Regions from separate parts of the Homo sapiens genome. Here region 2 is linked to region 1. Evidence: fine-mapped QTL for protein levels in blood plasma. Region 1 holds a variant in brackets. A gene starts in the other region. All regions are shown on their forward strands. Region 1 has its middle 5.7 kb from the start of NR5A2. Region 2 holds the start of CTRL (chymotrypsin like).

Evidence for each region. PIP is the posterior inclusion probability: the model's chance that the variant is causal. Protein levels are from antibody-based Olink assays in UK Biobank. Linkage for the fine-mapping came from a reference panel and not from the study's own genotypes, which makes the PIPs less certain.
Region 2: it holds the start of CTRL, and the variant in region 1 is fine-mapped to the plasma level of the CTRL protein (UK Biobank, PIP 0.97).

What each region holds. Positions count from the first base shown.
Region 1 is chr1:200,017,879-200,026,206 of GRCh38, forward strand. No RefSeq gene overlaps it. Among named protein-coding and RNA genes, the nearest start is that of NR5A2, 5.7 kb to the right of the region's middle. The variant A/G (reference allele first, on the strand shown) is at 3,773.
Region 2 is chr16:67,927,428-67,935,755 of GRCh38, forward strand. CTRL (chymotrypsin like) reads right to left here and starts at 4,435. Exons shown (of 7, transcript NM_001907.3): 1 at 4,374-4,435; 2 at 3,671-3,774; 3 at 3,493-3,572; 4 at 3,299-3,380; 5 at 2,981-3,161; 6 at 2,758-2,891; 7 at 2,147-2,668. The coding sequence starts at 4,425. The coding sequence ends at 2,507. It overlaps PSKH1 (protein serine kinase H1), which reads left to right. Exons shown (of 3, transcript NM_006742.3): 3 at 1-2,249. The coding sequence ends at 215. It overlaps PSMB10 (proteasome 20S subunit beta 10), which reads right to left. Exons shown (of 8, transcript NM_002801.4): 5 at 8,155-8,270; 6 at 7,993-8,051; 7 at 7,370-7,521; 8 at 7,079-7,244. The coding sequence ends at 7,133. RefSeq lists enhancers at 1-46, 1,419-2,129, 2,892-3,409, 3,410-3,926, 7,993-8,192.

The DNA.
Region 1 (8,328 bases):
CTGCAGCCTCAACCTCCCAGGCTCAAAAAATCTTCCTGCCTTAGGCCCCTGCCTAGCTGGGACCACAGGTTCATGCCATCACACCTGGTTAACTTTTTTAGTTTTTGTAGAGATGGGGTCTCATTTTGCTGTTCAGGCTGCTCTTGAATTCCTGGGTTCAAGTGGTCGTCCTGCTTTGGCCTCCCAAAGTGCTGGAATTACACGACCAGCCAATATTTAAATATTTAAATACACAGATATCTCCTAGAAGAAAATACTTTAAAACATGATCTCAGAATGTCAGGATTACAGGTGATTCATGTATCTTTCCTTTTGCTTGTCCACTAAATTGTTTTAATCTCTTTTTTTGCATACAGACTTTTATATAAATGCATAAATGTGATCATAAATTTATACTTTATTTTCTCCTTTTTTGCTTGATTCTTTCACTCATGTAGTTGCTTGATTGCTCATGCAACAATAAATTCTTCCCATGAATACTTCACTTTTTTTCCTTCTAGAATATGAATCCTGATATTTCACTCTTTTTTTTGTTCCAACACAAGGTCTCAATATCCCCCAGGCTGGAGTACAGTGGCATAATCACTGTACTCACTGTAGCTCACTGTAGCCTTGAACTCTTGGGCTCAAGTGATCCTCCCACCTCAGCCTCCCAAAGTGCTGAGATTACAGACATGAGGCACTGCACTCGGCCTATTATTCTTTTTTTTTTTTTTTAAGTGGCATTCAAAATGAAAAATATCTGGCCAGGCATGGTGGCTCACACCTGTAATCCGAGCACTTTCGGAGGCTAAGGCAGGTGGATCACCTGAGGTCAAAAGTTCGAGACCAGCCTGCCCAACATGGTGAAACCCTGTCTCTACTAAAAATACAAAAAATCAGCTGGTTGTGGTGGCAAGAGCCTGTAATCCTAGTTACTCGGGAGGCTGAGGCAGGACAATCATTTGAACCTGGGAGGCAGAGGTTGCAGTGAGCTGAAATCGTGCCATTGCCCTCCAGCCTGGGCAACAAGAGGGAGACCCCGTCTCAAAAAGAAAAAAAAAAAGAAAATGAATGAGTTTCATTTGGGGCATTATGCATATGTTTACTGAAGGACATATATAAGGACACAGTGCATTACCAACTCTGTTTACAGTTCTTTGAGTTTCTCCAGTGTATACCAGCAATATTAATATTGATAGCAAATGTATTGGCTGCCATGTTCCAGGCATACATACCATTAAATTCACAAAATAATTTGTCAAGCATTATAATAGCATTTCAAGCAATATAATAGCATTGAAGTCAGACATGGATTTGAGTCCAGCTCTATCAATCATATACCATCTGTGTAGCATTGGTCAAATTACTTAAAATTTTCAAGCATTAATTTTTCTCATATATAAAATAGAGGTAAATAAATTTTTTTTAAACTAAGTGATAGAACGTATGTAAAGCACTTAAAAGAGCGTCTGGCATAATTATGTGCTCAATAAGTGTAGAAATGGCCAGGCACAGTGGCTTATGCCTGTAATTTTAGCACTTTGGGAGGCTGAGATGGGAGGATCACTTGAGGCCAGGAGTTCGAGACCAGCCTGGGCAACATAGTGAGACCCTCATCTCTATTTTTTAAAAAGGCAAAAAGAAAAAATGAAGATAAAAAAGTGTAGAAATAATATGTGAGTGTACAGATGTAAAGAAGGCTTGAAAATGTAGTCAAAAATCACATTTCTATTTACAGAGCTGTTCCAATTCTAATGTATCCTAATATTAGTATAAGTAAAATAAAGTTTTAAGATCATTTAGTATGATCTTAAAGCTTGAGATTATACTAAATGGTCTTAAAGCAAAAAGGCACAATTTTTTTTTTTTTTTTTGAGACAGAGTTTCACTCGTTTCCCAGGCTGGAGTGCAATGGCACGATCTTGGCTCACTGCAACCTCTGCCTCCCGGGTTCAAGCGATTCTCCTGCCTTAGCCTGCCAAGTAGCTGGGATTACAGGCACGTGTCACCACGCCCAGCTAATTTTGTACTTTTAGTAGAGATGAGTTTTCTCCATGTTGGTCAGGCTGGTCTCAAACTCCCGACTCAGGTGATCCACCCACCTCGGCCTCCCAAAGTGCTAGGATTACAGGCATGAGCCACCACATAAGCCTCTTTTTAAAAAAATTATTAGGTAAATATAGAAAAAGTGGATAGGTCGTGACCTTCTGAAAAATGCAAACGGATCAGGAAAATCTAAAATGCTAATATTTAGTATCAAAATAATGCTTGAGGGTATAAGTTGTCAGATTCATGGAAATAAAAAAGGTAGAAACTGAGCCTATGTTTTTGAAACTCTTTTTGGTTTTACAATTTCATATAGTATAAAGTGACCTTTTTAAGTATCCTCAGTGTCTTTTAATTAACTCTTTCTTTCTTTTTCTTTTTCTTTTCTTTTTTTTTTTTTTGAGATGCTTTGTCACCCAGGTTGGAGTGCAGTGGCCACATCCGCCTCCTGTGTTCAAGCAGTTCTCGTGCCTCAGCCTCCCAAATGGCTGGGATTATAGGTGCACACCAACACACCTAGCTAATTTTTGTATTTTTAGTAGAGCCAGGGTTTCACCATGTAAAACGCTGGCACACACCTGTGCCACACACCTGTAGATCTGTGATTAGTCAAAATAGCATAAATGCAGATATGTTATATGTTCTATTATATTTAAGAAAGAAAGGATAAAACCAAAAAGGAAAGAGTTAATTGGCTGGGCGTGTTGGCTCACGCCTGTTATCCAGCACTTTGGGAGCCGAGGCCGGTGGATTACTTGAGGTCAAGAGTTTGAGACCAGCCTGGCCAACATGGTGTGTGCCACCATATAGCTAATTTTGTTTATTTTTTATAGAGATGAGGTCTCATTATGTTGTTCAGGCTGGTCTTGAACTCTTGGGCTCAAGTTATTCTCCTGCCTAAGCCTCCCAAAGTGCTGGGATTACAGGTGTGAGCCATCATGCCCAGATACATTTTTTTTTATTAAAAATAATATTATTTGTATTTTCTTATTTCGCAAAAGACTGAGAGGGCAAAAAAAAAAGTTGATTAAAATCACTGAAACATAAATCAAAATTGAGTTATATAGCCCCATGTAAGTTTCACCCATATGAAATATTTCAGTCTAGAGGAAAATCTATTATTTGAATGATTGTTTTATTTATGTAGTCTGCCAGACTATTAGGTAATATATAACATCCAGTTTCATGAATTAAGAGTGCCTGAGATGGCTGGGTGTGGTGGCTCATGCCTGTAATCCCAGCACTTTGGGAGGCCAAGGCAGGTGGATAACCTGAGGTCAGGAGTTTGAGACCAGCTTGGCCAACATGGCAAAACCCTATCTCTACGAAAAATACAAAAATTAGCCGGGTATGGTGACATGTGCCTGCAGTCCCAGCTACTTGGGAAACTGAGGCAGGGGAATAGGTTGAACCCAGGAGATGGAGGTTGCAGTGAGCCGAGATTGTGCGGCTGCACTGTAGCCTGGACAACAGAACAAGACTTTGTCTCAAAAAAAAAAAAAAATGCTTGAGATCTATTTTGTTGCTTTGTGTTTTAATAATAATTATGCTGTGATTCCTAGGGAAATCACTTTGGATATGCTACAGTTTCCTCTTTTAAAAACAATTTAGATCATTTAGTTGTTTGCTTAAATGTCTTTAAAGGCCTTAAATTGAAACAAAATGATATTGAGTTTATTTCTTGTACTCTAAATAAAGATATGAACTATGAGCCATCAGACACAGATCATAGATTGTGATAAAC[A/G]TGGGGAACTCAGCACAAGCCTACAAGAGAGTAAAGTCTTAAACATTCAATTGCCAAAAGATTGACTAAGGCTCTGTTTAATTATTGGTGTTATAAAAAGTGAGTAATATTTACCTGGCCATAATCGTATTGTGTAAAAGTCACTTATCTTTCCTGCCAGGTGCCACATTTCTCACAGTTATTTAAAAGAATGAGAAGAAATCTTTACTCAGTCACTCCTTTCCAAAATGTACCATTCCATCATCTTATATAATTTGGCAGAGGAGAGGATTATTAAGAAAGTTGATAAAAAATAAAAAGTGCCAACCCTAGCTCAGGTTCTGTACAAAATCAGTGACAAATGCCTATGTTAGCAAAGGGTACAAGCAAAAATGCACTACTAAGCAATGCTTTGGCAGTAACTAACTGGTTCAGTACTTATAAGACTTCTGTTAAAAACTCCTCCATATCTGATGCAATCAGTCTATTTGAATGATGAAAATTTTAAGGTGTTTGTTGTTAATAAACCCATATTATAAACATACTGAAAGGGCCTTTCTAGTTTGTTCATGCAAGGGGTTAATGATAAATCCAATTTTGCAGGAATATCAATTCCTAATAGATATGTCATAATGTCTTGGAATAGTGTTGTCACGAAGTTTACACTGACTGTAATTCATTAACTAAACTTTAACATCATCATGCAATATGGGTTCAGGTGACATTGTTGAATACTTTTTGGATTTTGGCAAAGATGCCTTAGAGTCATTAGTTATCTGTCAATAATTTACGAATCCTTTCTGAAATCTGTTAGCAAATATTTTTTATCATTATAAACATATTCTTGTAAATGTGAGTCATTAGAAGTATTCCATGTTGTGGTATCGAATGAGTTCAATGGGGTAGTGAAGGTGTTTAAAACAGAATGTTGTAATGGAAAATGCCCACACTTGCCAAATGGAAAGGGTCAGATGATACCTTGATTGAGAAAAAATAAATACAAAAACTGAGGGTGTGATTTGTTTTGTGTCCTCCCCCCCGCATGGCCAGAACATAAATTGCTTGTTAACTGTCACTGAGGCTGAGTCCCAAGCATCTGTTATTTGTACCACATGTGAACATTACTCTAGCCTCACTTTCAGAAAAATATGTTCATTTCTCACAAAGTACTGAGTACGTATTTCTATTCAATCAGCCTGATGGATAAGCTTCAAAGGACCAAAGTAACTCATTAATATAATGTTTCCTCAACAAGCCAGTGAGTTTTGTAGGAAAGCAAGAGAGTGACAAATGGCAAATAGTGTCTTTTAAAGATTCTGTTAGGAGTTATTAGGCAAGCTGGTAATACTACCACCCCCAATTTTTTGTACATTCTTAAAAATAATTATGTCTGATTAGAGGCAGACAGTATAGCATGAAATTCAATCTTTGTGCTATTACATGCTTTGTTAACCATGTACAATAAGGATGAGAAAAAAAGCAAATCACTTTATTTTTGGATTTATTATTATTAATAATTATTTATTCCTTATTCCTCATTATTTATTATTTCATTTATTATTTAAGAGATAGAGTGTCACTATATTGTGCAGGCTGGTCTCAAACTCCTGCCCTCAAGTGATCCTCTTGCTTCAGCCTTTCAAAGTGCTAGGATTTCAGGTGTTAAGCCACCGTGCCCAGCCACAAATCACTTTATGATGCTGTTTAATTATATGAATCCTATGAGGTCTTCTATAAGGTCTCTAATAGTGTATGTGACTAGGATAGAACTGGTGTCAGAAACAAAACCCAAAAACAGAAACTTTCGTATGTCTTCTAAAATTCCACTAAGGAAGATGTGTCTTTCACTTAAGATCCCAAGTCACAAAGCCCATAATCACTTTTTTTTTTTTTTTTTTGAGATGGAGTGTCACTTTGTCACCCAGGCTGGAGTGCAGTGGCACGATCTTGGCTCACTGCAACTTCCGTCTCCTGGGTTCAAGCAATTCTCCTGCCTCAGCCTCCAGAGTAGCTGGGATTACAGGCGTGTACCACCTTGCCCAGTTAATTTTTTGTATTTTTAGTAGAGACAGGGTTTCACCATGTTGGCCAGGCTGGTCTTGAACTCCTGATGACAAGTGATCCACCTGCCTCAGCCTCCCAAAGTGCTGGGATTACAGGTGTGAGCCACTGCGCCCAACCTCCATATTCACTTTTGATGACACGTTGAGTACTTTCTTTCTCTGACATGATACTGAGTACTTTATTTCTCATTTACATCTTACCACAAAAACTACTGGATTTCATCATTTTTGTCATTTTTACTTATGAGGAATTCAAGCCTTAAAAAAGCCAAGCATTACTTTGCCACCAAGAAGGAGGCAAAGTACAAATGGAAGCCCTGAGCTTTCTGACCTCAAATCCTAGGCTCTTAACCACCCTGCTACCCTGCCTTCATTCTTACCATGATCTCATAATTTGTGCTTATATAGGCTGCATTCAGCAACCCAAACTGACTGGTTTCCTCAGGAAAACTGTCAGAGCTACAACCAGTGCATTGAGAGGATCCGATGGACTATGTAATTTTATGGACTGAATGATATGAAAGGCCTCAGGAAATGTGTATCCAACACTTTGGCAGGTGTAAAAGAAGACCTACATATTTCAAAGCAGTTACAGATGCAAAATACGTCCATAGAAATATATGTTCCACACACTTGGAAGGCTAAGGCAGGAGGATCGCTTGAGCCCAGGAGTTCGACACCAGCCTGGGCAACATGGTGATATACTGTCCCTACAAAAAAATACAAAAATTAGCTGGGCCTCATGGCTCACACCTGTAATCCCAGCACTCTGGGAGGTCGAGGTGGGTGGATCACCTGAGGTCAGGAGTTTGAGACCATCCTGGCCAACATGGTGAAACCCCATCTTTACTAAAAATACAAAAATTAGCTGGGCGTGGTGGTGGGTGCCCGTAATCCCAGCTACTTGGGAGGCTGACATAGAAGAATCACTTGAACCCGGGAGGTGGAGGTTGCAGTGAACCGAGATCATGCCACTGCACTCCAGCCTGGGTGACAGAGTGAGACCTTGTCAAGAAAGAAAGAAGAAAGAAAAGAGAAAGAAGGAAAGAAGGAAAGGAAGGAAGGAAGGAAGGAAGGAAGGAAGGAGAGGGGGAAGGGAGGGGAGGGGCGAGGGGAGGAGGGGAGGGGAGAGGAGAGGAGAGGAAAGGAGAGGGAGAAAAAGAGAGAGAGAGAGAGAAAGAGAGAGAGAGAGAAGATGGGGAAGGTCCCTTCTGGGTTTCCATCTAAAATCAAAGAAGAAATCATTGGTTTCAATAATAATATTTTAAAATCCACCCTATGATTTTTTTTTCTTTAAAAGAAAAATATCAATCTAAGAAAATAATACCTAACATGGTGTTAATGAAAAGTAGGTTGGATTGGTTATGTGTACATAAGAACTTAAAGCTCAAAGGAAAAACAGCACGTATACCAGCATGTTGACCTGGCTCCGCTGACAGCCAGGATTACCAGTTATTTCACTTGGTGTGTACCAGTGCTACTTGGAAACTACCCACCTTCCATGAGCAGGTCTACTCAATAAAATCTTACTTTCATGAGGCTGTGAGGATATCCAAATGGGGACATTTCTTATACTCAGAAGACCACAAGTCACGAATGTGGCCACTTCTGATTCTGACTTCAGGGGTCACCCAGACCCCAAGCCACCCCAACCCGATAAAGGCAAGTTCACCTTGGGCAAAGTTCAGAGCCAGCAGCACAGCTGAAAGGCAGTGGACAGCACTTTCAGATGCTGTATTCCAACATTTCAACTGACATGAAGTGAGGCAAGAGGGGAAATAACTAACAGTAATCTGATTAAAAAACAAAAGAGAAAAAAAAAAGGGCCTGGTGTGGTGGCTCATGCCTGTAATCCCAGCACTTTGGGAGGCCGAGGCGGGTGAATCACCTGAGGTCAGGAGTTCGAGACCAGCCTGGCCAACATGGCAAAACCCCATCTCTACTAAAAATACAAAAATTAGCCGGGCATGGTGGCACGTACCTGTAATCCCAGCTACTAGGGGGGCTGAGGCAGGAGGATTGCTTGAACCTGGGAGGCGGAGGTTGCAGTGAGCCAAGATTGTACCACTGCAGTCCAGCCTGGGCAATGGAGCAAGACTCTGTCATTAAAAAAAAAAAAAAAAAAAGGACTGGCCTGGGTTTACAGGTAGCTCACACCTGTAATCTGAGCACTTGGGGAGGCTGAGGCAGGAGGACTGCTTGAACCCAGGAGACCAACCTGGGCAATACAGCAACACACTGTCTCTACAAAACATTTAAAAAATTAGCTGGGTGTGGTGGTACACATCTGTAGTCCTAGTTACTCAGGAGGCTGAGGCAGGAGGATTGCTTAAGTCCATGAGTCTGAGGTTGCAGTGAGCTATGACTGTGCCACTCCATTCCAGCCTGGGTGACAGAGTGAGATCCCATCTCTAAATAAATTAATAGACCATAAATTCTGTAATGTGAATCTTTAGACAAAGACTGCTAAATCTATCATCTGATATATGAAGTTTTATTACAACAAATGTTTAT
Region 2 (8,328 bases), not on the chromosome of region 1:
GGGTGGTGAGCATGGCTGCCTCTTCATCCATGAAGAACCTGCACCGCTCCATATCCCAGAACCTCCTTAAACGTGCCTCCTCGCGCTGCCAGAGCACCAAATCTGCCCAGTCCACGCGTTCCAGCCGCTCCACACGCTCCAATAAGTCACGCCGTGTGCGGGAACGGGAGCTGCGGGAGCTCAACCTGCGCTACCAGCAGCAATACAATGGCTGAGCCGCCTGGCTGTGCACACATGCAGCACGACCCAGCCTGGCCACACACTGTGGTGCCATCTGGGTCCGATGCCCTCTCTGGAGATAGGCCTATGTGGCCCACAGTAGGTGAAGAATGTCTGGCTCCAGCCCTTTCTCTGTGCCTTCAGCAGCCCCTGTCCTCACCATGGGCCTGGGCCAGGTGTGACAGAGTAGAGGTAGCACAGGGGGCTGTGACTCCCCCTGAACTGGGAGCCTGGCCTGGCACTGATACCCCTCTTGGTGGGCAGCTGCTCTGGTGGAGTTGGGAAGGGATAGGACCTGGCCTTCACTGTCTCCCTTGCCCTTTGACTTTTCCCCAATCAAAGGGAACTGCAGTGCTGGGTGGAGTGTCCTGTGGCCTCAGGACCCTTTGGGACAGTTACTTCTGGGACCCCCTTTCCTCCACAGAGCCCTTCTCCCTGGTTTCACACATTCCCATGCATCCTGATCCTTAAGATTATGCTCCAGTGGGAGACCCTGGTAGGCACAAAGCTTGTGCCTTGACTGGACCCGTAGCCCCTGGCTAGGTCGAAACAGCCCTCCACCTCCCAGCCAAGATCTGTCTTCCTTCATGGTGCCTCCAGGGAGCCTTCCTGGTCCCAGGACCTCTGGTGGAGGGCCATGGCGTGGACCTTCACCCTTCTGGACTGTGTGGCCATGCTGGTCATCGGCTTGCCCAGGCTCCAGCCTCTCCAGATTCTGAGGGGTCTCAGCCCACCGCCCTTGGTGCCTTCTTTGTAGAGCCCACCGCTACCTCCCTCTCCCCGTTGGATGTCCATTCCATTCCCCAGGTGCCTCCTTCCCAACTGGGGGTGGTTAAAGGGAGCCCCACTGCTGCTACCTGGGGAATGGGGCACCTGGGGGCCAAGGCAGAGGGAAGGGGGTCCTCCCGATTAGGGTCGAGTGTCAGCCTGGGTTCTATCCTTTGGTGCAGCCCCATTGCCTTTTCCCTTCAGGCTCTGTTGCTCCCTCCTCTGCAGCTGCACGAAGGCGCCATCTGGTGTCTGCATGGGTGTTGGCAGCCTGGGAGTGATCACTGCACGCCCATCGTGCACACCTGCCCATCGTGCACACCCACCCATGGTGCACACCTGTAGTCCTCCATGAGGACATGGGAAGGTAGGAGTTGCCGCCCTGGGGGAGGGTCCCGGGCTGCTCACCTCTCCCCTTCTGCTGAGCTTCTGCGCACCCCTCCCTGGAACTTAGCCATACTGTGTGACCTGCCTCTGAAACCAGGGTGCCAGGGGCACTGCCTTCTCACAGCTGGCCTTGCCCCGTCCACCCTGTGCTGCTTCCCTTCACAGCATTAACCTTCCAGTCTGGGTCCCACTGAGCCTCAAGCTGGAAGGAGCCCCTGCGGGAGGTGGGTGGGGTTGGGTGGCTGCTTTCCCAGAGGCCTGAGCCAGAACCATCCCCATTTCTTTTGTGGTATCTCCCCCTACCACAAACCAGGCTGGAACCCAAGCCCCTTCCTCCACAGCTGCCTTCAGTGGGTAGAATGGGGCCAGGGCCCAGCTTTGGCCTTAGCTTGACGGCAGGGCCCCTGCCATTGCAGGAGGGTTTGGTTCCCACTCAGCTTCTGCCGGTCGGCAGCCTGGGCCAGGCCCTTTTCCTGCATGTGCCACCTCCAGTGGGAAACAAAACTAAAGAGACCACTCTGTGCCAAGTCGACTATGCCTTAGACACATCCTCCTACCGTCCCCAATGCCCCCTGGGCAGGAGGCAGTGGAGAACCAAGCCCCATGGCCTCAGAATTTCCCCCCAGTTCCCCAAGTGTCTCTGGGGACCTGAAGCCCTGGGGCTTACGTTCTCTCTTGCCCAGGGTGGGCCTGGTCCTGAGGGCAGGACAGGGGGTTTGGAGATGTGGGCCTTTGATAGACCCACTTGGGCCTTCATGCCATGGCCTGTGGATGGAGAATGTGCAGTTATTTATTATGCGTATTCAGTTTGTAAACGTATCCTCTGTATTCAGTAAACAGGCTGCCTCTCCAGGGAGGGCTGCCATTCATTCCAACAGTTCTGGCTTCTTGCTGTAGGACCAAGGGGTTGCCCTGGAGGAGGGGTGGGGGCCCCGGCCTCGGCATGGCTACTCTAGGAAGAGCCACTGCTACTCAAGGAGTCACTCAGCCCCTTCTGTGCCAGAAGTCCAAGTAGGGAGTCGGACCCTCAACAGCCTCTTCTTTCTCCTGAGCCAGGAAGACAGACATGAATGCATGATGGGACAGGGCCTGGGTCTTTAATGGGTTGAGCTGGGGAGGGCCTGTGGTGAGCTCAGTTGTAGGCTATGACCTGGTTGATCCAGGTGCTGAACTTGCTAACTCGAGTATACACAGCAGGTGCGCGCACATTGCAGTTTTTGGTGCCCCAGGAGACAATACCAATAAGCACCCATGTGTTTCCCTTCTGGCAGACAAGAGGGCCTCCGGAGTCACCCTGAGAGGGAAGAGGGAGGGAGAATTGAGTAGGGGGGGTTGGGGAGGTATACCACAGGACAGCGCAGAGGAGCGGGTGCTGGGGCTTACCTGGCACGAGGAGGCACCTGCGCCACCTGCACAGATCATGGAGTCAGTGATACTTGAGCCCCAGTACTGCCGGCACTGATTCACAGTGACCAGGGGCAAAGCCACCTGCTGCAGATGTGCTGGTGTCACATTGCCTGTGGGCCAGGAGGGGTGGTCACATGGGGCCCAGAACACTGGTCCCCACCCCAGTCCTCCCACCCTGAGCTTTGGCCTGAGTCCCTACCCACGCCACTGAGGCGACCCCAGCCGGTGGTGACACACGTGAGGCCTTCAGTCAGAGCCTCGTTTGAGGATGCCAGGCAAACTGGCGAGATGCGTGTTGTGTACTGGGCTGGCGAGGCGAGCTTCAGCAGCGTCACGTCATTGTTCATGGTGGTAGAGTTCCAGCTAGGGTGTGTAATGGCCTGTGGGGTCAGAAACAGTCCATGTTCTGATGGGTGCTGAGCAGGGTAGGCCAGGGCATGTCCTGAATTCCTCGTTCCCAGCACCCACCCACCTGCACTGCCCACTTTTCCTCCGTGTCTGCAGCCCAGGCACTCACCCGAGAGACGGACAGAACCTGCAAGGGCTCTGCGTTTGATGATCGGTCATACTCGCCCAGGACAACAAAATGGCGGCCAGGGCTGCAAGGGGGTGGGATTAGGCAGCTGCAGGGAGGCCAGCGCGAGAGGGGGACAGCCAGGGGAGGAGGCAGGAAGAGGCGAGGGGCGGGGCAGGTGGAATGCAGGCACTCACCTGACATTGCAGTGGGCAGCAGTGACCACCCAGGACTGGCTGATGAGAGAACCACCGCAGAAGTGGAAGCCGCTGCTGTCCTGTGGTCAGGGCTCAGAGGTCAGAGTGGGGGTGGGCTGCTGAGGCTGCCCCTAGGCATGACGTACCCAGGACCCTGCCCACCCCTCTGGTGGTGTACCTGCAGGGACACCTGCCAGGGCCAGGAGCCCAACACTGCATTCTCCCCGTTGACAATCCTCTGGCTGAAGCTCAGTGCCGGTTTGATGGCAGGAATGCCGCAGCCTGGCCATTGGGCTAATGAGGACCTGCTTCCCATGCCTCAGCCCATCTTTCCCCACCTCCTTTTGGGTGCCCCAGGCTGTGCACCCCAGAGAGGTCTGTCGAGAGGGTACAGCACTACCCCTTCCCCAACAGGGTACATGCAAGCACCTTCGGGCCCCACAGCTATCTTGGTTATCCCTATCCACCCAGTCCCCCAGCCCTGCTGTTCTCCTACATCTGTCTCCAGCCTAGTCCCCGCTGTTCCCCATCTCTACCCCTGGTCTCTCTGCCCCCTCCCGACCTGAACAGTTCATACCCTTCATGCAGCCAGAAGGTTCTTTCTAAAAGACATGGACAGGTCTTCCTGTCTCAGCTTCCTAAACCCTCCCGGGCTCCAGGGCCTGGCTCAATCTCTGGTCCTATTTGTGAGACCACCCCACCTCTTGCCCCCTCCCAGCCCTGCAGGCCTGTTCCCTGCTCCACTGCCCTGGCATATCCTGTTTCTTTTGCCCACTCTGTCCACCTTCGTCCCTTCCAGCCAGCCTAGCTCCTTCCCTGGGCTGTTGCTGGGAGCTGAGTTGCTCCCAGGGCTGAATCAGGGCTGGTCCTGGCCCACTCACCCCAGGAGGAGCCGAGGAGAACCAGGCTTAGGGTCAGGCTGAGCAGCAACATCGTGGCAGATGTGAGGTTGGGAGCTGGGTCTGGCTTTATGGGTCTTCTCGTCCTTGAGCTAAAGCTCCAGGCCTGAGGCCAGGCCAGCTGTGTAGACTCAGCCCCCTCCCACGCTCCAGGCAAGACAGGCCCTTTAGGCCAAGGTCCCCTGACCGAGACCTAGACTTATCAGACAGAGCCCAGGTGTGAGACTCACCTCTGCCACCTCCCAAAGCCTGGCCTCTAATTGGCTCCCAGAACCACCTCCCATTCCAAATGTTGAGCCCTCGGTACTGAGGACAGATGGTTAAATTAGGTCTATAGTGACAACCTGGTGGCTGGGATCACAGGAGTCACCCAGGGCTAACAAAGGCACCAGGCTTTCAGAGAAGGCCGCTCAGCGTCCAGGGTGTTCTGACTGGTGGATGGAATGCTCACTGCGGTCAACTTTGCTGTGAAGGGCCAGGGGCTGTGAGGTTCTGGCAGGCTGGGAGTCCTAACACATCATCGCAGTGGTTCCTCGTCCATTTGGAACAGGAGTCACAGGTCTGCTCAGAGATGGTGACTCTCCCACCAGCACGTGGTTGAGTTGTACACAAACTCGCATTTGTCTGGCGCTGAAGCCTCCGCTCTTAACAATGAGATGATACTTATGAAGGGCCTGGCATTTAGGAGGGCAAAGTGTGAGCTCTTGGTGCCTGGCCGACCGTGGACTGAGGCTGCAGGTGGAGAGTGACAGACATCAAATCTCTGCCACCCTCTTTAGGCCTTGGGGCTCCCATGGGCAAGCCCCTGGTGTCTGTAGCCCATTTGTTACTGAGCTGCAGACCAAGCTTGAAGGGAGAAGACACCCTGTGTGCAAAGTTCCAACAGGTGCATTGGCTGGCGGCCTTCTGGGAGTGTGAGGGCTTTAACTGATTCAAGAACAGATCAGGGCTGGGTGTGGTGGCTCACACCTGTAATCCCAAAACTTTGGGAGGCAGACGTAGGAGGCTTGATTCCAGGAGTTCGAGACCAGCCTGAGCAACATCATGAAACCCTGTCTCTACAAAAAAAATTTTTTTAAATTAAGAAATGAGCTGGGTATGATGGTACACACCTGTAGTCCCAGCAACTCAGAAGGCTGAGGCAGGAGGGATCACTTGAGCCCTTAAGTTCAAGGCTGCAGTGAGCCATGAGTGCACCACTGCATTCCGGCCTGGGCGATGGAGCTAGACCCCATCTCAAAGAAACAGCATCAGCCAAAAAATGAGATGAATTGGCTGGGCACGGTGGCTCACGCCTGTAATCCCAGCACTTTGGGAGGCCGACGCGGGCGGATCATGAGGTCAGGAGATCAAGACCATCCTGGCTAACAGGTTCAGTAGAAACCTCGTCTCTACTAAAAATACAAAAAAAAAAAAAATTAGCCGGGCGTGGTGGCGGGCACCTGTAGTCCCAGCTACTCGGGAGGCTGAGGCAGGAGAATGGCGTGAACCTGGGAGGCGGAGCTTCCAGTGAGCTGAGATTGCGCCACTGCACTCCAGAGCCTGGGTGACAGAGCGAGACTCCGTCTCAAAAAAAAAAAAAAAAAAAAGGAGCGATGAATTAATGGATAGAGGGATGAATAGATGATAAAACAAATATAACAAAATATTTGCACTCCAGAGCCTGGGTGACAGAGCGAGACGCCGTCTCAAAAAAAAAAAAAAAAAAAAAAAAAGGAGCGATGAATTAATGGATAGAGGGATGAATAGATGATAAAACAAATATAACAAAATACTGTCAGGTCTGTGGTGACCTGACAGTATAAGGGTATTCAATATACAACTCTTTCTACTTTTCTGTTACATTTACAAATGTTCATTAATAGAATGTTGGGGTGCAGGGAGCACACTCAGCGGCCTGGGGATGTGCAGCCCGGCATAGACCCTCCCTGGGCCCTGGGTAGACTCTCCCTGACATTTCTGAAGCTCCAGCGGAGTTCAGCCGTTCTCGCTGAGGACAGGATGCTCTTGCTGGCACCCAGCAGCCAGGCCTGAGACTCAGCAGGGGCCCAGCAAAGGTTTGTTGGAGAAACGTGTCATCTCTCCCCATGTGAGTCCTGTGACCCTTATTAGCCTGGAAAACTTGGAGTCACAAGCCCAGCATGTGCAGACAGAAGACGAGCTTCACGTGAGCAGTGCAGGCATGCCTCGTCATCTAAGGGGTGTCACAGGTAAAGATGTTGCGAGGTTGAGGAGTGCTTGGTGAGAACTTGCCTTGGAGTCAGGGAGCGGCTCCTCTTGTCAGCACTTTAGCCCTCAGTGGGGCCTGTGGGGGCCTGATTGAAAGGTATGAGCTTTGTCCTGGGCCACTGAGGAGCCATGGAAAGTCTCTAGGAGGGGGTAGTACATGGGGTATTTCATAATTTACAAGTCTCCAGTGGACTAGAGGGCAAGAGCAAGACAGTGGAGTGGTGGGGGAGCCTTCAAGTGTGGAGTCAGAAGGAAGGTTTGGGTGGAGACCAAGCCTGCAATGCTGGCCAGGGCTGGGGTTCTGGAGTTGTAGGTGCCTGAGGTTATGGGTGAAGGGCATCTCTTAGGCCAGACACTAGAGCTATGGTAGGTAATGGCCCCTGCAGGGACGCCTTAGCTACAGAGCCCTGCTGGCTGCCTGCCCACCCCATTCCACTCAAGAATGACACAGCCATCTGTTTAACTGTATTTTCTGGGTTTATTCCCCCTTGTTCCAAGCTCTAAGCCTCAGCTTACTCCACCTCCATAGCCTGCACAGTTTCCTCCACTAGCTCCAGGGTTAGTGGCTTCACTGTCTGGGTCAGGACAGCTGTGGTTCCAGGCACAAAGTGGTAGCGGCCAGACCTGGGAGGGAGGAGGGACAGCCTCTGAACATGGGCCTGTCATGTGGCCCATCCCCTTTTTGCAGCCCCCTATCTCCCCTGCTATAGCCCCACACATCCCTGTGGTCCCCGATCTCCAGCTCTCACCTCTTCACGGGCTCTGTGGGTGAGCTCAGTGTCCGCAGCAGCTTGGCGCCAGTCTTTGTGATCACACATGCGTCCACATTGCCCCCGGAGCCCAGGTCACCCAAGATCCCGGCGGTGACGGCTTCCACCAGCAGCCCCTGAGCAGCCTCCAGCTGCGGTGATGGGTGTGTGAGACCTAACGGGCTCTCTCTGCTGTTAACTTAGGCTACAGCCTGGGGACTTGCCTGTCCACTTACCCAATCTGGTCTTGCCCTCCAAACCCCCACTGTGTTTCTCCCTCTGAGCCTTAGCCACCTCTGAGGCAACATCACCTGCTTCCATCCCACCCCAAACAAAATCTAGGCTCCAGACGTTGATATAAGTAGGACCCTACTGGTCCTTCTCTCCGCCCTCGGCTCCTAAAGATCCTCTGTGAGCTTCGACTTCTCCCAGCCGTGCAGGCTTTGGTATTGGACGGTGTTATGTCGGGACCGCACTTCTCTGCCCTTACTCCACTCACCCTTCAGTGGTCACCTCCTCCGACAAGCCTTAGCCACCCGCACTGGGCCAGGGTCCTGTGCTCCCCCAGCTCCCGGGTGCACATCCCACCAGCGACCACAAAGTCGGGGACAGAGGCCGCTCACCGTCATGTTCGGCTGGAACCGGTCTTCTAGCACCGCCAGGGCCGCGTCCTGACCAGAGCCTGAAGGCAGGAGAAGCATCTGAAGTCAACCGCTGCGACGCCGTTTGGAGTGAGGCCAAGGTCACAGGGGCAGAGTTCGAGGAGAAGGGACAGAAGCGCTCACCCAGGGCTGTGAAGGGCAGACGGCTGTAGGAGCCATGGGGATGCACACCGTAGAGCTGCGGTCCAGTCAGGTCTACGCCGCCCACGATCAGCGATGCACCCACGTGGCCCTGGTACCTGCTCGAGGATGGGCGGGGTCGGCCACAAGCTGGGGCCTAGGCCCCACCTCTCTATG